Homo sapiens: one gene and its partners. The protein of the gene in region 2 interacts with the protein of the main gene of each other region in a biochemical or structural test. Each region holds a gene or a part of one and is shown on either strand. Other genes may lie near its edges. The genes, in order: DDX19B, NUP214 and NXF2.

Region 1 (3,755 bases), on a different chromosome or scaffold from region 2:
GTGAGCCGAGATTGCGCCACTGCACTCCAGCCTGGGCGACAGAGTGAGACTCTGTCTCAAAAAATAAATACATAAAAATTTAAAAAATAATAATTAAAAAAACAAAAAACCTCTCAGAACTACTTGAAACACATATTTATCTCTACGTTGACTAATGATGTGTTTTTTTTCTAAGTGTATATTGTGCCTTGAGATATTGGCTAATAAAAATATGAAGCCAGCACACACAAGCACAGGAAAGCATTATTTCATTTTTATCTCAGCCTTTATTACTTTTTTATTTGCTTTACAATGTACATAATATATTTAATAAAACAGTAAAGTATGCAATTTCTAAATAGATATTTACATATTGAGAGTGAATGATCAAAAGTTTCTTTGCAACAAATAACAAACTACACAGTTCATTTACTCAGTTAACAATGCCTGCCAGGTTAGGCATGAGAAATGCTCAAATGGATAAGGACCACAGTTAAGGGAGGGGATGCCATAATGAAAACAGAAGCATTAAGTGGAAGCAGGTATTCTGGGTCCTGAGACCTCCCTCACCCTTTCCTCCACCTAGATTCCAGAACACTGAGTCAGACCTCCACCATCTAGGCAGGAGTTTAGAGGATCCCTCTCTGCAAAATCTGGCCAGACCGGGAGGAAAGTTCTCAGGATGCTGACATAGACCACTAAAGATATATAGTTAAGGTCAGAATAGACAAGCCCCACTCATGTGTTTACAGCTTCCACTCAACTTTTTAGTCACTCACTCTTAAATATGAGTGGCCAAGCAAGGATTACAGACATCTGAGAAACAGTCATCACAAAAAAGTAGACACTGAAATATATGGATAAAACACGCCTCACATGAAACAGAGACTGAGCAGAGAGAAGAAGAAAAATATCCTCCAAATGATGAGGATATTATGACCATGAAAGCCGTACAGGGTATTGTCTGTAAAAAAGGAACAGTAAAGGAAGAAGAAAAAAGTTCCTGAAATTAAAAATAAGAAAGTAGAAGTGAAAATGAAATATACCAGACAGTACTTGAGAAAATCTCCCAGGAAATATAGAAAGAAAGAAAGAAAAAAAAAAGAGACAAAGATGAAAAACAGAAGAAAAAAGAAAACCAAAGGACTTTTAAACGAATGGTGCTGGAACAATTAAGACAGCTCTGGCCAGGAGTGGTGGTTCACGCCTGTAATCCCAGCACTTTGGGAGGCCAAGGCGGATGGATCACCTGAGGTCAGGGGTTTGAGACCAGCCTGGCCAACATGGTGAAACCCTGTCTCTACTAAAAATACCAAAAGTAGCCAGGCTTGGTGGCAGGCGCCTGTAATCCCAGCTACTCGGGGGACTAAGGCAGGAGAATCGCTTGAACCTGGGAGGTGGAGGTTGCAGTGAGCTGAGATCACGCCACTGCACTCCAACCTGGGGGACAAGAGCAAGACTTTGTCTCAAAAAAAAAAAAAAAAAGACATCTCTGTGAAAAAGATGAACAGATGAACCTCGGCCAGGCACGGTGGCTCACGCCTGTAATCAAGCACTTTGGGAGGCCGAGGCGGGCAGATCATGAGGTCAGCAGTTTGAGACCAGCCTGGCCAATATGGTGAAACCCTGTCTCTACTAAAAATACAAAAATTAGCTGGGCATAGTGGTGGGTGCCTGTAATCCCAGCTACTAGGGAAGCTGAGGCAGGAGAATTGCTTGAACCCCGGAGGCGAGGGGTTGCAGTGAGCTGAGATTGCGCCACTGCACTCCAGCCTGGGAGACAGAGCCAGACTCCGCCTCAAAAAAAAAAAGATGAACCTCAATGCATACCCCTTATTAGAAAAAATTTAACTCAAAATGGAAAATGGATTACAGACATAAATGTAAAATTTAAAACTATAAGACTTCTAGAGAACACAGGAGAAAATCTTTGTGGCCTTGGATAAGGTGTATATCTTGGAACACAAAAAGAACTAATCATCTAAAAATTGATAAATTAGGCCGGGCGCGGTGGCTCACGCCTGTAATCCCAGCACTTTGGGAGGCCGAGGTGGGCGGATCCCAAGATCGGGAGGTCGAGACCATCCTGGCTAACATGGTGAAACCCCATCTCTACTAAAAATACAAAAAAAAATTAGCCTGGCGTGGTGGTGGGCGCCTGTAGTCCCAGCTACTCGGGAGGCTGAGGCAGGAGAATGGCGTGAGCCTGAGAGGTGGAGCTTGCAGTGAGCCGAGATGGCACCACTGCACTCCAGCCCAGGCGACAGAGCAAGCCTCCGTCTCAAAAACAAACAAACAAACAAAAATTGATAAATTAGGTTAATCAAAGTTGAAAATGTCTATTATTTGAAAAGTACTGTTGAAAAAAGACAAGTTGTAGTTTGAGAGAATATATGCAAAACATATCCGATAAAGGACTTATCATGCCTGTAATCCATCTCAGCACTCTGGGAGGCCCAGGTGGGCGGATTGCTTGAACCCAGGTGTTCCAAGACCAGCCTGGGCAACATGGCAAAACCCTGTCTCTACAAAAAATACATACATTAGCCAGATGTGGTGGCGCATGCCTGTGGTCCCAGCTACTCTGGAGACAGGGTGGGAGAATCCCTTGAGCCCAGGAGGTGGAGGTTTCAGTGAGCCAAGATCATGCCACTGCACTCTAGCCTGACTCTAGTCTGGGTGACAGAGTGAGACCCTGTCTCAAAAAAAACAAAAACAAAAACAAAAAACAGAACTTCTATCCAGAATATATAAAGAAACTTCCCAACTAAAAACAAAAACAATCCTACTTTAAAAATGGGCAAAAGGTTTGAAAAGCCACTTCAAAGAAGTTACATACATGGCAAATAAGCACATGAAAAGATTGTCAACATCATTAGTCATTAGGGAGATATATAAGTTAAAACCACAATGAGACACCAGCATGTACCTATTAGAATGAAGGAAACTGACAATACTGTGCAGGGAAGGGTGTGGGGCAGTTGAAGCTCTCATCCATTGCTGTTGGAAAAGCAGAATGATACACTTTGGAAAATAGTTTGGCACATAACTTACAAAGTTAAACACATACGACATAACACAGTAAATCCTACTCTTTGATATTGACTTTACCCAAGAGAAATGCAAACATATGTCCATACAAAAATCTGTACCTTAATGTATAGAGTAGCTTTCTTCATATTGTCTCAGACTGAAAATTACTCAAGTGTCCATCAATAGAAGAATAAGCAAACTGTGTATATATATCCACAGTGGAATTCTACTCAGCAATAAAAAGGAATGAACTACTGATACATGCAACTTGGTTGAATTCTAAATGCATAATACTAAGTGGAAGAAGCCAGACTTTTCAAAAGGTTATATATTATATATATGATTCCATTTTATGACATGTTGGAAAAGGCAAAACTATAATGACAGAAAACATATCAGCAGCTGCCAGAGAAGGGTGAGGAGAGGGAGTGAACTACAAGAAGTTGTAGTTCTTTGTAGAGAGGGTTTATGTGTTGCCTGTGGTGGTAGTTACACAACTGTATGCTTTTGTCAAAATTCATAGAACTGTACACTAACAAAGTTTAATTTTACTCTGTGTAAATTATACCTCCATAAACCTGACTTTTAAAAAAATTAAAGGGCTGGCCAGGTGTGGTGGCTCACGCCTGTAATTCTAGGACTTTGGGAGGCTGAGGCATGCGGATCACTTGAGGTCAGGAGTTCAAGACCAGCCTGGCCAACATGGTGAAACCCCACCTCTACTAAAAATACAAAAAGTAGCC
Region 2 (3,755 bases):
ATTGCACTTTTAACCTTTTTGCATGTCTCCATATTATAGCAATCATGTTTTACATCTGTAATTTTAAAAAAAGAACACGATTATTTGTTAAATGCCAACAAAATCTGTGGAAAATGCAGAAATGTATATAGAAGTAAACAGCCTTAAAGTCACTACTCAGAAATATTTAGCTTATGAACCTATTTCTCTTTTGGATTTTTGTCCTTCAGCATAGATTAATTTCAAATAATTATAAAGCTACATTATATATAGTTTTATTTACTTTTGTGGGGAGGGGGCTTAGCCTCACATTATAAGCATTTTCCCATACCATTGAAATATATAAGAGTGTACTTTTAAAACTGTACATTTAAACTATACTAGAATTATTTTGATATATTTTCTGTAAAGGAGAAGATGGCACACCTTAGACTGGAATTAACATTGACAGAGCCACGGAGCAATTTCAGAGACCTCAAACACAAGTGAGGCAACGTGCTCACTCCCCATGGCCACTGACGTGTCACAGAAGGCACATGTGGTGCTAAGCAGCACCTCACAGGCTGAGCTACAGGGAATTATACACTGGAACAGTGTTTCTGTCTTTTTGTAATATTCTTTTTTTTTTTTTTTTTTTTTTTTTTCCATAATTTCAGGGACAGCCAAGATAGAAACAGCTGTGACTTCAACCCCATCTGCTTCTGGGCAGTTCAGCAAGCCTTTCTCATTTTCTCCATCAGGGTCAGTAATGAACTTAAGTTTTATGGCAAATTACTAGCAATTAGCTTCCCCAAATCTTACAATTATAGATATATTTATTTACTTATTAAATGTGTATGAACCCAGAGTTCTTACCGTGGCAGTAATACATGTGATGATAGTGGCAATAGTTTAATGTTCTCATGTAAATCGATTTTCCCTTTGCAATTCAAGTTAATACTTGTTTGTTACATATTTGTGTATCTGTTTTGTTTTTTAGCCTAAGCCTCATTTTCTTTGAGTAATGAGTCTGCTAAATTCTGTAGTTCATCTAGTTTGTCACACTGAGATGTTTCCATTCTGACACCATTTTGGGGGCTAGATGTGACATTCAAATTGACTTTGCTGGACAAACATGGTGGCTCATGCCTATAATCCTAGTGCTTTGGGAGGCCAAGGTGGGAGGGATTGCTTGAGGCCAGGAGTTGGAGACTGACCTGGGCAACATAGTGAGACCTCATCTCTACAAAAAATTGAAAAATTAACCAGGTACGTTGGTTCACTTCTATAGTCCCAGCCACTTGGGAGGCTGAGGTGGGAGGATCCCTTGAGCCCGGGAGTTCGAGGTTACAGTGAGCTATGATCACACCATTGTACTCCAGCCTGGGCAACAGAGTGAAACCCCGTCTCCAAAAAAAAAAAAAAAAAAAAAAAAAAAGGCTTACTGCATCGAGAGTACAGTATACTAAACTTAGAGAATGTAATGAAAGATAATAGGCATTTGAAATTTGAGGTTTTATATAGATGTGGAGGAATCTGTTTCCGTTTCTTTAAAAAATAATAATAATAATGATGGCTGTACTTGTAAAGTTGAGTTGTTTTTAAAAATGAAAGAATCTTCTATACCTTATCTCAAGATGAGCCTTTGTTAAGGTGCCTGTTCTCTGTGCCCTGAGCGCTCATGTTGAAACCTGTGTGAGCTGCTGAAGCATTGGGTTAGACTCTGTGGAACTGAGATCAAAATGTGTCAAAAGGATTTTTTGCCATTGAAGCATTGTGCATTCAGTTCCTTAGAAAAGCCTCTTAAGTTCTTCAGTTTATGCTTTTGTAACTAGGAGCATATTAACCAGTCTCTTTTTCCTGATTTTAATATATTTTTTGAGTGTCCTTCAGCCTAAGGAGAAAAGAGGGTATTAGAATATTATTTGAGGGGGAAAGTAATACATATATTTTTTCTTTATTATAAATCATTATGTTTTATGCTTCCCAAAGGTAATTTGCAGCAAATTTTAAAGAGTAGGTCAATGCCAAGAATTATTGCATCCTTTACAGATGGCTAATAATCAGTCTTCTGTGAAATGATATTCTTCTTCCTTTTCTTTTTTTTTTTTTTTTTTTTTTTTTTTTTTTTTGGATTTTCAGGCAGAGTATCACTCCGTCACCCTGGTTGGAGCGCAGTGGTGAGATCTCAGCTCACTGCAATCTTCACCTCCCGGGTTCAAGTGATTCTCTTGCCCTAGCCTCCCAAGTAGCTGGGATCACAGGTGTGCACCACCACACCCAGCTAATTTTTGTATTTTAGTAGAGATGGGGTTTTTTCATGTTGCCCAGGCTGGTCTTGAACTCCTGGCCTCAAGTGATCCACCCGCCTTAGCCTCCCAAAGTGCTGGGATTGTAGGCACGAGCCACTGCACCTGGCCCTCTTCCCATTTTTAAAATAACCCAGAAAAGGTGGGGTCATTGAATCAATGGCTTGACACTATTAGATAAAATTTTTTCACTAAGAAAGGTTGTGTTTTTTTTTTTATTTTTAATATGATGGGCAAAGGTGTCTAAGTTATTACATTATTTAGTATATTTGATGTGCTTGGTTCGTTATATTTTAAAGCTAGTTTGAAATCTGCAATTTGAACTTTGCGTGTGTGTGTGTGTGAGATAGAGCAAGATTCTGTCTCAAAAAAAAAAAAAGGTGCAGTGGTACAGTCATGGCTCACTACAACCTCCACCCCCAGGACTGAAGTGATCCTCCTGCCTTAGCCCCCCGAATAACTGGGACTACAGGTGCGCGCCACCACACCTGGCTGATTTTTGTTTTTTAATTTTTCGGTTTTGGTTTTTGGGGGTTTTTGTTTTTGTTTGTTTGGTTTTTGGGTTTTTGTTTTTGTTTTGTAGAAACAGGGTTCCACCATGTTGCCTAGGCTGGTCTCAAACTCCTGGGCTCAAAGGATTAACCTGCCTCAGCCTCTCAAAATGCTGGGATGTGAGCCACCATGCCTGGCCTGAGTTTTTATCACAGTGAATAATCTGTTCTGATTCACACTCGCGTGGGATTTTCTTCCTTAGCTATGGTGTCTTCACTTACAGTGTAAAGAAAACGTACAAAAGGAGAGAGGAGATGGTGAAAGGAGTCACAAAGTTTTTGAACTAGATTTTCCTAGCCGTAAAACTCAGTTCTGTCAAAATGACTGAGTTAGGGCTTCTATTTCATTGTATCCATTGTTTTCCCTAGCAGTGTGGGGCTCTCTGACATGCTTGTTGGTCTTGGAGGGGTTCTGAGAGGCTCTCCCTAGTCTTAAGTGCTTCTGTCTTACCAGACCTTCCTTCTGTCCCCTCACTTAACAGACCATCTGCTCCGGCCACCATTCCCACATGCACATTTGTCATGTGTCTCTACTGCTGCAGCTTTGCTCATCTTGCAAGAAGTCCCCACTCAAACTTCTGCTACAGAAAGCCCAGCCATCCCCCAATGGGCTCTCAACTGCTATCCCTGTCGTATCTCACACACAAACTGCTTCTCTGCTTAGAGATCATAGAGTGGCCTTACTGCTTCTGAGATAGGTGCTTTGACTCTGTTGTCATTTATCTTCTAGATTGTAAATTCCTGAGGGCGGTTTGTATGAATGAATGATAAAATGGAATATTAAGAGGGCAATATTGTGCCTTGGTTTGTTCCTTTTTAATTTCTCTTTTTCCACTTGTTAGGACTGGCTTTAATTTTGGGATAATCACACCAACACCGTCTTCTAATTTCACTGCTGCACAAGGTACAGACTCTGTGTTGAGTAGCATTACTCATG
Region 3 (3,755 bases), on a different chromosome or scaffold from region 2:
AGAGAGAGAGAGAAAGAGAGTGTGTGCGCACATGCGTGGGGTCATGTGCATGTGTGTTTCCTTTCATGTTCCAACTTTCTAGTCTCTACAGTACAGGAAAGCATATAAGAATGTTTAAGAGTGCTGGAATAGTTGCCAAGTAAGCAGATTCATCGTATATTTCACAAGACATGTTTTCTGTTGTAAATGGTATATTTACAATAATGATGGTATTTTCTTTGTTACAATGGTTTGTGTATGTTCGTCTTATAGCCAACAAACTTGTTAATCTCCATTATTATTTTTAATTTTCTGTAGCTTCTCTTGAGTTTCATATGAAGATAGTCACGTTGACAGCTTTTTCACTTTTATACACGTATTAATTTATGTATGTAGGCATGCATGTATCACAGCTTACCGCACTGCCTAGTATGACATATGGCTTACTGCACTAGACTCAGTACGACATTGAACAGAATTCGTCATACCAGTCATCTTTATCCCTTTTCTGATTGTAAGGAGAATACTTCTAATGTTTTACTATTAAGGGTGGTGTCTGATGGGGTCTATTGTTTTGATACCCATTGTCAGTTTAAAGAGATAGCTTTCTATATTACCGATCTGCTGAGAATTATTGGTATTGTTGTTGTTCAATCCCGGTTGGTTAATTTATTGCATACTTTTTTTTTTAACTGGATCTTTTGTGGTATTTGTCCTGTCCTCCTCCCTTTATTCAGCTAATGTGTTAGATTACATTATGGATCTCTTAAAATGTTAAACTCAGCTTGCATGCTTGGGATTAAACACAACCTCGTCATGCTGTATTATCTGCTTTACCCATTGTTGGGTTTAGTTTGCTATTAATTGATTTATATTATTTGCGTTTATGTAACTAATTCGGGTTGGCTAGTAATTTTGCCTTTGCATGTATTCCTTGTCAAGAATACATTGAATAAACCAAGGTTTTCTATTCCTTCAGTTTGGAAAGTTATATATATTTTTCCCCTGGAATTCATCTATTTAATCTAAATTTTCAAATTTTCACATCCTTTTCATAATGTGATCTTTTTCAATCTTTTCTGTCACTGTAAGTGTGACACTATCTTCATTCCAAAAGTGGCTGACCCGCACCACCTCGCTAATTTTCTCTGCCCGTGTGGCCAGAGATTTTATCATTATCCTGCGCTTCTGAAACACTGACATCTAGCAATTTTGTTCAACTCTCTCACATGGTGTTTTCACTTTCATCAAGGTAGGCTCTATTTTTTTATCATTTTTCCTCAACATAGCGGTAAGACATGGGGATTATTCCACATTAAGTAAATGATCAATGAAAAGTCCTTTCATCTACCACCTGGTTTTATTTTTATAATTGAATACAATGGATATTCAAATATCCAATACATTCCCTCATTTGGAAAAGACCTCTGGCTTATCAGTGCTGGTCTTTTTAACCAGTGCCATCGTGTCTATTCAATTAAACTATCAGATGATTAAGGAAGAGGGCATTGCATCATTGATGTAAAAGAATTTTTACTATAAGCTTCCTTTAAGAGAAGAGCAGGCAGCGTAGAAAGAAGCAGAAAGGACATCGACTTTGAAATCACGCCTGGGTGGATTCAAATCCTGATTCTGTCACTTACGGCCGATGTGATGTTAGGCAAGTACTTAATCCCTCCCAGCTTTGATTCCTTCATGCAGTAGTCAGTGCTGCCATTTACCAAGTGTTTACATTCTCCCCTGTACCAGGCACCTGGTAGGACTGCCCGACCCGACTGCCTTCCTTGGGGCAGGGCCGTGCATGTGACTAGCTCTGGCCAATGGGTTGTGAGTGACGAGTGACACGGGTTATTTCTGGGTCAGAACCTTTGGTTGTTGGTTTGAGACCCTCTACGGCTCTCTCCCACTCTGACGCAGTGAGTAACCCCTTTCTAGATGGTGGCTGCTCCATTAGTTTGGGTCTCTGAGTCATTCCAATAAGAATGGCTCAGAACCCAACATCCACCATCCCGTGAAGGATATGCACCTGGCATAAACATGCAGCAGGAGTGAGAAATAAGTCACTGAGGTTTGGGGGTTGCCTATAAGCACAGCGTTACACTCAGCCTCTCCTGACTCATATATCTCATCTGTCAATTAAGATAACACCCTCTCAGGACTTTCCTGAGGGTTAAATGCAGTAACTTGCATGACAGCCGAGGTTATCACAGTGCTTGACATATGACAGGGGCTCAAACTATGGCAGCTGTAATTATTAAGTAATAATAAAATGGTTCTGAAGAAGTGTGGTTTTTTATTGTGTAAAATGAGCGGTACTGCATCTGCTTGTCCTGACAGGTAAGTTGTATCTTGTTTTCAAGAGTGGGGGCACTTTATTTGCTGCCACAGGTAAGGCTTCCTAATGACTTGCATTTATGCACATATTGTCTGCCACCACCATGGTATCAGATGCATGCTTGGCGGTATCTCTGAAGAGTAAAAAAGTACAAAGATTCAAGCAGGAGAGACTGACTGATGACATGAGATAAAATGAATTAAAGAGCAACAATCAATGTCTTAATGAGCAGACTAGATTACAACTATTATAAACCCACATTCCATTGTTCTGAGTAAACAAAGGCACAAGGTTTTAAAGTGTTAGAAGATGTAGTCTGAACAGGGTTTCCCCAAATATTTTCTGAAGAACACTGGTACCTCAAATGCTCTGTGGAAAAAAATGTTCCATTCCCATACAAGTTGGGGAAAGTAGCCCCCCCTTTGAGACTCGTGTTGTTTATTAGCATATCATCTAAAAAAATCCTACAGTATTCGTTTACCTTCAGTTCTGTATGTCCCACACTTCTTTAGAGTAGAGCACATTTTGTTGTTGCTTTGTCCTGACACTACAGTCTCACAGAACGAACTTGGAAATGCTGAAATGAGAGAAAAATAGATTATTCAACCTACATGTAATATCAAATATCACAAGTGACAATATTCTCTAACCATCTGACAAGCAATATTTGAAACCCCGTAAGTTTAAGCACAATCTTGCTATTTGCTCAACTTCATTCACCCAATACCGCTTTCATGATGTACCAAATGTTATCACCCATGATTGTACCTTAAATCCATTCACTATACTTTTTTCCACAGGAAGAAAAGGAGAGAGTTTTCAGAAAGGAATCTAAGAAGCAATCATTAGAAAATCAGGGGTTGATGGGGGGAGAATCAGAAACAAAAGAGTGTGAAGCTATACTACTATAAGCTACTGAGAGATCCTAAGCGCACACACACACAAAAAAAATGTCACCCACTCCCAAATGTACTTTTTAAAGCCAATGGAGTTCAAATAAAGTATAACAAGTAAATTCTGAATCTTCACATCATGACGACTTGGACACTTTTATTGAAATATCAAATTCTCTTTTTAAAAAAATTCCCGATTCCCCTCTCTCCCTTTCGCCCACCCCCCTGAGCCCATGTTTAGAAGGTTTAGTAGAAAAATAAATCATGGAAACAAAGAGAATCTTTACATAATCAAATAAGAGACAGAAATTAAGATTGGGTCTGGAATCGTCTATACAAACTGGGATCTAGGCAGTCTCGAGTGTCCTTAATAACAACATGGTCTGAGGAGGGGCAGAGGACAGAATCACCTGGCACAGACGGTGAATCGGGCAGAGTGACAGGCAAGGGTAGGGCTTTTAGTGTGGGGGCGGGAAGGGGGGGGAATCCCATCAGGCTTCCACAGCCCTGCCCCTGAGAAACGACTTACGAGTTCATGAATCCCTGCC

The links.
Region 1: the proteins of NUP214 (region 2) and DDX19B are reported together in a solved structure, tested with the Homo sapiens proteins (2 studies listed by IntAct, with this or other methods).
Region 3: the proteins of NUP214 (region 2) and NXF2 form a complex in vitro, tested with the Homo sapiens proteins (one study listed by BioGRID).

What each region holds. Positions count from the first base shown.
Region 1 is NC_000016.10:70,302,082-70,305,836, reverse strand, and holds part of DDX19B (ATP-dependent RNA helicase DDX19B), read right to left. Parts: intron 1-3,755. UniProt on the Homo sapiens protein: ATP-dependent RNA helicase involved in mRNA export from the nucleus.
Region 2 is NC_000009.12:131,191,573-131,195,327, forward strand, and holds part of NUP214 (nuclear pore complex protein Nup214), read left to right. Parts: intron 1-635; coding exon 636-720; intron 721-3,660; coding exon 3,661-3,722; intron 3,723-3,755. UniProt on the Homo sapiens protein: Part of the nuclear pore complex. Has a critical role in nucleocytoplasmic transport.
Region 3 is NC_000023.11:102,306,162-102,309,916, reverse strand, and holds part of NXF2 (nuclear RNA export factor 2), read right to left. Parts: intron 2,892-3,755; 5' UTR 2,839-2,891; coding exon 2,796-2,838; intron 1-2,795. UniProt on the Homo sapiens protein: Involved in the export of mRNA from the nucleus to the cytoplasm.